Homo sapiens: one gene and its partners. The protein of the gene in region 1 interacts with the protein of each later gene in a pairwise test. Each region holds a gene or a part of one and is shown in the gene's direction. Other genes may lie near its edges. The genes, in order: KIR2DL3, INSIG2 and BMP10.

Region 1 (3,653 bases):
TATATATATATATTTTTTTTTTTTTTTTTTTTTTTACCCTCCACCCTTTTATTCCTGGCCTCTGGAAGCCACCATTCTACTCTCTACCTTCATGAGATCCACCTTTTAGCTCTGTATATGGGTGAGAAATGGGAATCTTTGTAATGACTTCCAGTTCCATCCATGTGGCTGCAAATATCAGGATGTTATTCTTTCTATGGATGAGTAGTCTCCACTGTGCGTATGTACTACATTCTCTCTATCCATTCATCCACTGATGGGCAGGTAGGTTGACTCCACATCTTGGCTACTGTGAACAGTGCTGCACCAATCATACGAGTGCAGATATCACTTCGATATATTGATTTACTTTCCTTTGGATATAAACCCAGTAGTGAAATTGCTGGATACTATGAAAGTTCTCTTTTTAGTTATTCGTTTGTTGTTTTGTTTTTGTTTTTGAGACAGTTTCCCTCTGTGCCCAGGCTGGAGTACAAGTGAAGTCATCTTGGCTCATTGCAACCTCCGCCTCCTGGGTTCAAATGATTTTCCTGCCTCAGCCTCCCTAGTAGCTGGGATTACAGGTGCACGCCACCATGCCTGGCTACTTTTTGTTTTTTTTAGTATAGATGGGGTTTCCCCATGTTGGCTGGGCTGCTCTCAAACTCATGACCTCAACTGAGGTGCCCGCCTCGGTCTCCCAAAGTGCCGGGATTACAGGCATGATCCACCTCACCCAACCTCTTTTTAGTTCTTTAAAGGACTTCCACACTTTTCTCCGTAAAGGCTGTACTAATTTACACTCCTACCAACAGGGTATTAGGGTTCTCCTTTCTCTACCACTTTGGCAGGATTTCCTTTGCCTGTCTTGCAGCTAAAAGCCATTTTATTTTATTTCATTTTATTTTGAGATGGAGTTTCGCTCTTGTCACCCAGGCTGGAGTGCAGTGGTGCGATCTCGGCTCACCACAACCTCCACCTCCCAGGTTCAAGCGATTCTCCTGCCTCAGCCTCCCGAGTAGCTGGAATTACAGGCACACGCCACCACGCCCAACTAAATTTTGTATTTTTAGTAGAGACAGTGTTTCTTCATGTGGGTCAGACTGGTCTCAAACTCCCGACCTTATGAGGTTCACCCACCTCAGGCTCTCAAAGGTCTAGGATGACAGACGTGAGCCACCACGCCCGGCCTAAAATCCATTTTAATGGGGTGAGATGAAAACTCACTTTGATTTTAATTTGTGTTTCTCTGATGATGAGTGAAACTGAGCACTTTTTAGTATGTGGGGAAATTTCATGTGTTTTGCTCCTTTTTCAATTAAATCGTTTGTTTTATTGAGTTGTTTGAGCTTCTTATATTTCTAGTTATTAATCCCATCTCAGATGCATAGTTTGCACATATTTGCTCCCAATCTGTGGGTTGTCTCTTCACTTTGTTGGTTTATTTTTAGCGGTGCAGAAGTTGCTTAGTTTGAGGTAATCCCAATGGTCTATTTTTGCTTCGATTACTTGTGTTTTGAAGGTTTAAAACAAAATGTCTTCCTTCAGACAAATGTCCTGGAGCATTTCCCCAATATTTTCTTCTACGTGTTTCATAGGTTCAGGCCTTAGACTCACATCTTTAATCCATTTTCATTTGAGTTTTGTGTATAGTGACAGGTAGAGGTGCAGTTTCATTCCTCTGCATGTAGATGTCCAGGTTTCCCTGCACTGTTTATTGAAAAGACTGTCCTTTCCTGATTGTGAGTTCTTGGCACCTTTGTCAAAGTCCATTGGATGGGCTGGGCATGGTGGCTGACACCTGCAATTTCAGCACTTTGGGAGCCCAAGGCGGGTGGATCACCTGAGGCCAGGAGTTCAAGATTAGTCTGGCCGACGTGATGAAACATTGTCTCCACTAAAAATATAAAAATTAGCTGAGCATGGTGGTCAGCACCTGTAATACCACTACTCAGGAGTTTGAGGCCAGAGAATTGATTGAACCCAGGAGGCTGTGGTGGCAGTGAACCGAGATTGCACCTCTGCACTCCAGCCTGGGTGACAGAGCGAGACTCCATCTCAAAAGAAAAAAGAAAAAAACATTGGAGGTAAATGCATGGATTATATCTGTGTTCTTCATTCTGCTCCATTGTTCTACGTGCCTTTCTTTATGCCAATGTGATGCTGTTTTGCTTACTACAGCTCTGTAACATATTTTGAGATCAGGTAGTGTGATGCTCCTGTTTTCTCTTTATACCTTGAAGTCTCAAGACAGTGGGCGTCACATACAAAAATTACGGAAAAAAGGATCCCAGGACTCCCAGGGCCCAATATTAGATAACAGAGTGTTGGCCATGAACCAACCTCAAAGATTTCCATTGAGTAGAGGACAGACACCCTCATTTCCTCACCTCTCTCCTGTCTCGTGTTCTAGGAAACCCTTCAAATAGTTGGCCTTCACCCACTGAACCAAGCTCCGAAACCGGTGAGTACAGAACCCTCTTATATCCGCTTTTGGAAACCTGGGGAGGTAGAAACCTTCGATGCAGGCATTGACTCAGCATCTCGCAGCTCTGACATTGTACGCCTGTCTTCTACCATCTCCGAACTCCAGATACTCCAACAGCGAAAGGGATCTGGGCCCAACCTAGGGCTCAGTGAAATCTCTTAATCTCTCATTTTATGGAGCTGAGACCTCCTACAAGCTAGAAGAATGATTGCCAATCTGACATCCTTCTCAGGAAAAATGCAATGTTTGTTCTGCCTGCATTCCTAACTGGAGGATAAATTCCTGGGGGCTTGAGAGAGGGAAGGGAAGGGAACATCTGATGAGGGCGAGGTGTTTTAGAGAAGTTCCACTTGCCAAGGAATGAATTACTGTTGGTCATGAAGCAACCCTGGCTGACTCAGCAGAGCAACAGCCTTGCCGTAACAGAGAACGGAGCTCATGCACGCACACTTCGACTCACTGACTCATTCAGCCACGGCCCCATGCTCAGGCTGTGCAGTGCGGAACCTTTTCCTATTGTTGCCATAACAAATTTCCACAAGATTCGTGGGTGAAAACAAAACGGTTTTTTAATTATCTTACAGTGCTGTAGCTCAAAGTAGGAAGTGCATCTTACTGGGCTAAAATCAAGGTGACAGCAAGGCTGCCTTCCCTCTGAGGATTCCAGGCAAGAATCTGCTTCTCACTTATCCCAGCTTCTAAAGGCTCCCAGTTCCTTGGCTCCTGTTCCCCTTCCTCCTTCCTCAAAGCCCACAAAGACTGGTCACATCTCACATGGCATCACTCAGTGCCTTCTTCCTTACCACACCTCTTTCTCTGAATGCTGCTCTCCCTTCTTCCTTATCTTTTGAAAACTTGGGGATTCTATTGGGTTCACCAAGATGAAAATCCCTCATAATCTCCTGGAAATCATCCAGGATACCCTTGTTTTAAGTTCAGCTGATTAGCAACCGCAATTCCATCTACAATCTTCATTCCTCCTTTCCATGTAAAATAACATATTCACAAGCTATGGAGGCTAGGACAGGGACATTTTGGGGTGGGACAGCATTCTCCTGCCTTCCACAAACGGTGAACAAGATGCATTTGGCTTCTGCCCTTGGGACACTGATATTGCAGATGGTTAAATGGGAGGGCAGAAAATGAATGCACAAGTGGATCTATAAATGAATGATCCATTGGGAAG
Region 2 (3,653 bases), on another chromosome or scaffold:
GCCTGTTATGGGGAGATGAGGACACTCACTGAGATGAAGAAAGAAAACCAGTGAGCCCAGGGTCCCAGAGCCAGTGAGTGGTGTGACTGGGTCCACATGTCACATGCTGGGGAAGGGAAAAGGAAGCTACTCACACTTTTCCCCCTACTCAGGATGCCACTTTTCAAGCCTCCAGACTGGGTGCCAGACCTAGATGGAATTCCCTGGCGTGTGTTGTGCATTTGGGCTGGGGCAGGAGAACTTAACTGAGGTTTCATTGTACCTCCACTATGAAGAGTAACAGGGCTGCACCTGCTGTCTTGTCCTTCTGCCCCTTTAATGTCAGCACTTTTGCCATAAACTTACATTTTAGGAAGGAAAATTTCAAATGCTAATACCACAGTTCAGCCACTACTTTCCTTCCTGTTCCCAGCCACTAGGTTTGTCACACTTACAAACTTAACCTCATTTGGGGAATTTGCATTTACATTTCTTGCTTAAGTATTTCTTCTGAAAGCAGTTTGTACCATAAGGTACTTGGGCAAAAGAAAGTAGAGAGACATTAGGAAATCTAGATTCCAGCCAATTCTGCTACCAATTTTGTTAGTTAAGTCATGGTGTTTAGTAGATGAGAGTGAAAGATATCAGATTTGTCCAAGTTGCCAGAGATGGAAAATGGATTCTCTCAAAATCTCTGCTCTGCCATCCCCTGCATCATTATTTTAGGGAAAGTATCATGGGAAAAGAAGTAAATGATTTAAGAAACATAGTGTGTTTGAGTTTGTGTGTGTATGTAATATGCATATGTTTTTGTGTATATGTGTTGGCGTGGATTTTCAAGACCTCGCTAGGGTCTTACCATCTTAAGTCAGAAAAACTGATAATCATCCTTTGATTTTCCTGTTCAACTAACATTCATAGATAGAGCAGCCACCTTTTGGAGGGGCTCCAGAATCACCACCTTCTGTGTGTAGAAAGTGCTCCTTGTTATTTGCCACCTTTCTCTATAGCACAATCCTGGAAAATTTGCTAGTGGTGGTTCTGGTGGGACAACTAATAGAGAACTTTGGTAAACTAATTTTGATGACTTTTTTTTCTTAATTCCATATTTTTAGTTTGATAATGCTGATGTTACAAGTTAACTTCCTTATGTGTGCCATGCACCAGAATTGGAATTAGAAATCTTTTCAGCATTATTGAGGGCCACAAAGAAATCTTTCTAAAGAATAAATAGAAAAAGACAACTCGTGTGGATAAAATAAGTAGAGAAGTTGCCTCAAAAATCACAAGTAGCCTGGTTGTGTCCAAACGTATGAAAATAATATCTAATGTAAAAAGAAAAGAAAAATCTTTCCTGTTTAGCTGTGCAGTCCCTTGCCCTATTCCTGTAGAGCCTTGTAAGATTCCTTGCTTTCTCTCCCGTTCTACATCCAGTTTCCAAGTCTTACATCTTTCCTCTGTCTCTTTCTTGGTCCATCCCTCAATGGCTGTGCTTGGAGTCTTTAGTCTTTGCCGGCCTCTAGTTTTGCACCCACCCTTTTCTCAGCCCCCTTGTATGGTACCCTCACTGCTAAGAAGATGGCCTCTCTCTGGTACAACAGTGATGACATTGTTTTCCTGATTGCCCATTGTCTGCAGGGTAAAGTCTTTATAATATGGCCCTTGACTGCTTTTTTCTTCTTCAGAGTCTTTCTGGACCCTGCAGCTCCCTTTGTGTCTGAAGCTTACAGCTTCCTCTTAACACCAGCAGTTTCCAGTTTTCCATGAATGTCCTCAGCCACCTCCCTTTAATGAGAGCACTATTTCTGCGCCATTTACTGCTGAATGCTCCTGCCTCAAGGGTCACCTCTTTCCGTGAAGCTTTTCTGACAGCCCAGCACCTTGCCTTCCCCTAGCACAGGCAAGGAGAAGCCTGGGACCCCTCTGTCCTGTCAGCTGCCCTTAATGCAGGATTGTATTTAATTGTTTCTGTGGTCACTTTGCAATTGGAATCGTATCTTACTCTTTTGCCTTTTTTTTTTTTTTTTTTTTTTTGAGACGGAGTCTCACTCCGTCACCTGGGCTGGAGTGCAGTGGCGCCATCTCGGCTTACTGCAACCTCCACCTCCCAGCTTCAAGCGATTCTCCTGCCTCAGCCTTCCGAGTAGCTGGGATTACAGGCGCCCACCACTACGTCCAGCTATTTTTTTGTATTTTTAGTGGAGACAGGTTTTCACCATGTTGGCCGGGCTGGTCTCAAACTCCTGACCTCGCGATTCGCCTGCCTCGGCCTCTCAAAGTGCTGGGATTACAGGTGTGAGCCACCACGCCTGGCCTTACCTTTTTAAATCTCCAGCAAATACCAAGAACCAGACATATTGTCAGGGCTTAAGTATTTGTTGAAGGAAAATATTATCTTATAGTTTTGCGTCGAAGTATACCTCATGGAGTGTTTTCGTTTATTCAGTTCCTGTTTTCTTACAAAATGTCTGACTTTAACTGTGTTCCTTTTAGTGCCTCCCTGCATTTAAGCACATTCCCATAAAAAAGTGATGACTTACTACTGATATTTTACAAACTTCTTTAGTGTTTAGCTTTGGTAGACTGTAACTAGTCACTGGGAAATAACTTAAAGGTATCACAAGAAATGTGATTTTTGCATCAGAGAACCATTTGATTTATAAGCAGGATTGTGTTTGCATATGATTTTACACAGGCATGATTTTAACAGTCTTTCTTGTTTTTTTTAAAAAAAAGTACAAGAAGAGGAAAAGAGGCCCAGACATACTCTGTTGAGCTCTCAAACAGTGGAACCTCACAGTGTTGTATATATTGCTATCAGACTCTGCCATGCCTTTATTTAAAGGAAAGAAAGAAGACATTTAATGGGAAGTGACAAGCTTCTTCGAATTCTCCCTCTCAGTGAGCAACTGAGAACCATGCATACTCAATGGATTTGATTTTTATTGGCAAATCCCAGGGTTGGCAGTGTGGCAGTTTAAATTTCTTTTTGTGTTTTTGCTTTCTCTCCTCAGTTGTCTCTCACTTGCAAGTCTGACATCACATGCATAAAAATATAGTCGATTTTACTTATTTATACCTTTGCACATACATGTCAGTATTCTCTATGTAATAATTCTTTACCTAGGCATCAGTTGCTCAGGAAAATTGACTTGGAATGTCTGCTCTTAGTTGACTTTACTCAGCAACAGGCAAAGGGAGGATATATATGGTGGGGGGATGGGGGTGACAAATGAGCTGTTAGTTTTATGACCCCTTGAGAAAAAAAGAGGTGATATTCGTTTAACTACATTTCAACTGTTAGGGATGCTTGTTGCCATTTTATTTGTATAGAAATTTTAAAATCCTGTCAGTTAATCTTGTCAGGATTTTGGAGCAGATTTTTAAATAGGAATATAGTGTGAAACTTCTAGATTTACTAATAGTTATTGGAGCTCTGCATTGCCGAGATATGTTCTTAATCTCTTGATGTTCTGTGAGCCATCTATACTCAGCACATGCCTAACTCAAAAGAGTTGTGGACTAGAAAATGCATACAGTATTGCAGCATCTCATCTCGAGATAGAAGGGTGGTCACACAGCCTTTTTCAAATGCTGCACCATTGGTCTGCTAGGCTGTGATTTTTGATACTAATTGGTTTCTGTTTTTCTTCGAAGAGTGAATGCATTGCCTG
Region 3 (3,653 bases), on another chromosome or scaffold:
GCTCCAGAGGGCAACTCCTGGTCAAGGCAGGAAAACAGAAGAAACCAGCATGAAATCTGTTCCTGAGACAATAGGAAAGCAAGGCCATGAGTACTGGCCATTGCTGCTGCAGAGAGTAGAGGGGTTGGGAGGGTACTTGAAGGGGAGAAAGGGAGAAAGGGAAGAGGATATTGATGTTATCCTCAGAGGCTATCCTCAGATGTGTCTGTAAAACCAAAAGTGGTTCTGTTTAAAGAATTAAATCTTTTGGACAAAATAGAAGTATCAAAGACTAAGAGGAGGAAAATCAGAAGGGGTCTGTCTGTTGGAAGAAAGGATGTTAATATCTTTCTTCACCTGTTAACACTGTTCCCTTGTCTCAGCACCCCTGCTTTCCTCTGCTCCATCTTCTTCCTTCCCTCTTTCTTCTTGGCCCTAGTGCCTCTCACCTTCCTCCCATCCCTGTGTCCCTGCTCTTCCCTGGCCTTCATGATGCATGCTGTGAACTGGAAAGGGACACCTAAGTGCCTTTGCTCTCAGGGTGAAAGGAGTTAGTGTTCTAATTTCTAAATCTTCCCGTGATATTTAATTTGATTTTATTTTAATAATATCCTTTATCAAATGTTTTGTTCATGAAGAATACTTAGATATAAGAGAAAAGAAAACCAGAATAAGTAAGTATAAGAAAAAGAAAACCAGAGTCCAAATGAATGGATTTAAATAAACGAATTTATGAATAGACACACAAGCAAATGACTCAAAAGCCAAGCCTGAATTTTGAAATCATGATTGTTTCATGGTAGAAACCCAGTAACTTTCCCATCTTCTCATCTTACCATCTTCCCATTTTGCAACTGGCCAGGACTGAAAGTGGTGAGGAAGTGTTCTGCACAGGAAGGGTCCGGTGGGTTTTCCTGGCAGGTGGCAGCCTCCAGTCTTAACCCCTAACCATTTCCCTCTACCTGGCAAGCATATTCTGGGCTTTGTGCAGGAGGAACCAGAGCAGAGCAGAGCAGTTTCCAAACTGTTCCAGCATCTCCAGGCAGGGAACATGGATGGTTCCTGTTAGAACCAGGAATGTGGTTTCCAGTACGTCATCCCCCATTCACCCCTACTCATCTTAAGGAATGCTTCCTTAAGAAGTCTGACACTTTTTTCTTTTTTTTACCCTGGAAAACAATCAGTCCCCTTTTACAAATCTCTTAAGGTTATAAACTCAAACTGCACTAGACAATAGAGGCAAGGAAAACTATTTTGAAGAAGGCCCAATTTGAACCTCAGCTCGCTAGATCTGTTGTCTGCTGGGTGAATCCTGGGGAATTCATTGCTCATGGAAGAGTGGTGTTTTGACCGTCAGTGGGTATACAGTGATTGATGCTTTGAGAAAGCCATGCAACTCAGAATCACTATTTGTGGAACAGCCTCCATATAACATGATGTGTGTATGTGTGTGTGATGTATAGCTGGCTTTGAATAACCACGCTTAATACCCTCAGTGGAACGTGGTGCATCCTTCATACTCCATGGTACACAATGTATACTCACATACTCCAAGGTACTTCTTATCCTTTCTAAAGGACACTGTAATACATACACAGTAAAACCTCAGCTGACCAGGATAGTCCTGGTTAGATAAAAATTAAGCAAATTTTCTTTATGTCTAATACATATGACAGTGGTGTGCTGGTAAAACCCTTACAACCAGCAATCCAGGGGGAGAAAAAGCCCTGATTTGTGGATTTCAATGCTGCAAACGCTCCTACATGGTCTATCTTGAGCTGCCAAGGTGATGTCAACTGGCTTGCAAAACTTCTAAAACCTAAGTCAGCTCTTGGGAGCTGTGCACTGGTGCTGGCACACCGCTGACATTTAGTATCCCACTGACATTAGCACACCGCTGACATTAGCACCCTGATACTAGAATGTTAAGGATGTGCCAGCCCTGCTTTCCACTGTGTGCGCTGCTGGCTCCGGGCTTCTGGAGAAATCTTGTCTCGAGCACTTATAGTCACTCTTCTGTTAAAGAGATATGAAAATATAGGCTGTTGGCGATCAGGCTGCATAGCCCAGTTGTTTCTTTCTGCCCATCCAGATGTAAACCTGCATTTCTATGATTTTCTGCTTCCCTGTGGAAAGGGAGTGCAGAGAGCAACATATTGTTATTCAAATGTTGCTAGTTGTATTTTTTTGGCTTTTTGTCAGAAAGTGAAAAGACACAGCCCGTAGAGGAGTTCTCCCAGCTCCCACCGGAACCCCGGCAGCACACCGGTGTCACTTTCAACTCCTGCATTGACAGGAAGCCAGAATATTGTCAGATCCTTAAAAAGGTAGAATCTTACTAATGTTTCTCTGGTCATAGACCTTCTTCTGGGTCCCATGCCAGTTTTTTTCCCCCTTTTATTGCAGAATTATCATCACCGAAGTTGATATAGCTAAACAACTCTTGAGGAGAATTATAGCAGAGGGACTTGGGCAGCCCACAGCCAAAATATTCATGTAAGAGTTTCTAGGCTTCCCACTATTTATTGATTGATATATTTATTTTTGTAAAATATTGTAGAATACCAAATATTTTATTTTTATGTCTGTGATTCCCTTTTGGATAGAGAGTCTTCTGGGCTTCAGAGTATGGCTCACATATAATATATGGCCTGTATTTCCATCTCTCTCTTTTTGCATCAGAATATTCTATTGGTTTAAGGAATCTTGCCATAGCTTGCCATAATTTTGTATATTTGTGTCTTGCAGGCATGCTGTGCCTACAAGCATGCTTTGTAGTATATTTTCTGATTTGTAAATAGTACAGTTTTAACTGAAGTGTAGATGTTCCAGGAAATATTTAACCAATACATTGTCATGCAGTTTCATAAAGTGATGTTGTCAGTTTATCATGAGAAGCAAATATTGTCAGGCTGTGAGAGAATGTGATTGCTACTCAGTAAACGGAGATGCTATTTAAATGAATCTTTTCATCCCCCAAATCTGGTACTTCCCCTCTGAATTCACCTGTTGCCGTCACTGACCCAGAAATTCAGAGATGTGATTGGTCAAATTCATTTGTAATTGGACCAATTACTTTGTAAATGTCAAAAATGTTAGCTTAGTGATTTCCAAAAGAGTCAGCCCCAAAGTGCCGAATTCTTTCCTGATGTGTAAATTTTGGTCCGGGGAATTAATGACAAAAACCTTTTTTTTTTAAGAACTGTTACTAAATGTTTCAGTATTTGTTATGATTTATATTCTTCAAGTAAAAGATATTTTCATATAAGAGAATTTTATGTATTCTTCTTACTTGATTCATCAACAGATTATGAAGCCTAGCAGTGTTCTGGCAAAACCTTTTTAACTTGCCTAGAACACAGAAGGGATGTTGCCCTTTTTAAGGTTGTAGATCTTTTCAGAGTCACTGTGGGTCATTCTCAACCCTTTGCAGTTCTGCAAGCTCACATATGGTGCAAGAGGAAATGCTGGTATGACTCTGTGCATTTTCTTGCCCCCAAACAGGAACAGTTGATTTCCTACATTAAATGGAAGGTAGATGTGACTATGGAAGAGAAGTACACAGGGGTGTTTCTGCATGTGAAATATTTGTCATAAGTTAAAAACCCATCATGGAATAACTGTTTGTTGTGATCAGCATGTTTTTATCACACATGGGCACTGGTTTTGTGAGC

The links.
Region 2: the proteins of KIR2DL3 (region 1) and INSIG2 interact in binary tests that used the Homo sapiens proteins (3 or more experiments, as listed by UniProt).
Region 3: the proteins of KIR2DL3 (region 1) and BMP10 interact in binary tests that used the Homo sapiens proteins (3 or more experiments, as listed by UniProt).

What each region holds. Positions count from the first base shown.
Region 1 is NC_000019.10:54,744,943-54,748,595, forward strand, and holds part of KIR2DL3 (killer cell immunoglobulin-like receptor 2DL3 precursor), read left to right. Parts: intron 1-2,392; coding exon 2,393-2,443; intron 2,444-3,653. UniProt on the Homo sapiens protein: Receptor on natural killer (NK) cells for HLA-C alleles (HLA-Cw1, HLA-Cw3 and HLA-Cw7). Inhibits the activity of NK cells thus preventing cell lysis.
Region 2 is NC_000002.12:118,098,384-118,102,036, forward strand, and holds part of INSIG2 (insulin-induced gene 2 protein), read left to right. Parts: intron 1-3,653. UniProt on the Homo sapiens protein: Oxysterol-binding protein that mediates feedback control of cholesterol synthesis by controlling both endoplasmic reticulum to Golgi transport of SCAP and degradation of HMGCR.
Region 3 is NC_000002.12:68,861,322-68,864,974, reverse strand, and holds part of BMP10 (bone morphogenetic protein 10 preproprotein), read left to right. Parts: 3' UTR 1-3,653. UniProt on the Homo sapiens protein: Required for maintaining the proliferative activity of embryonic cardiomyocytes by preventing premature activation of the negative cell cycle regulator CDKN1C/p57KIP and maintaining the required expression levels of cardiogenic factors such as MEF2C and NKX2-5.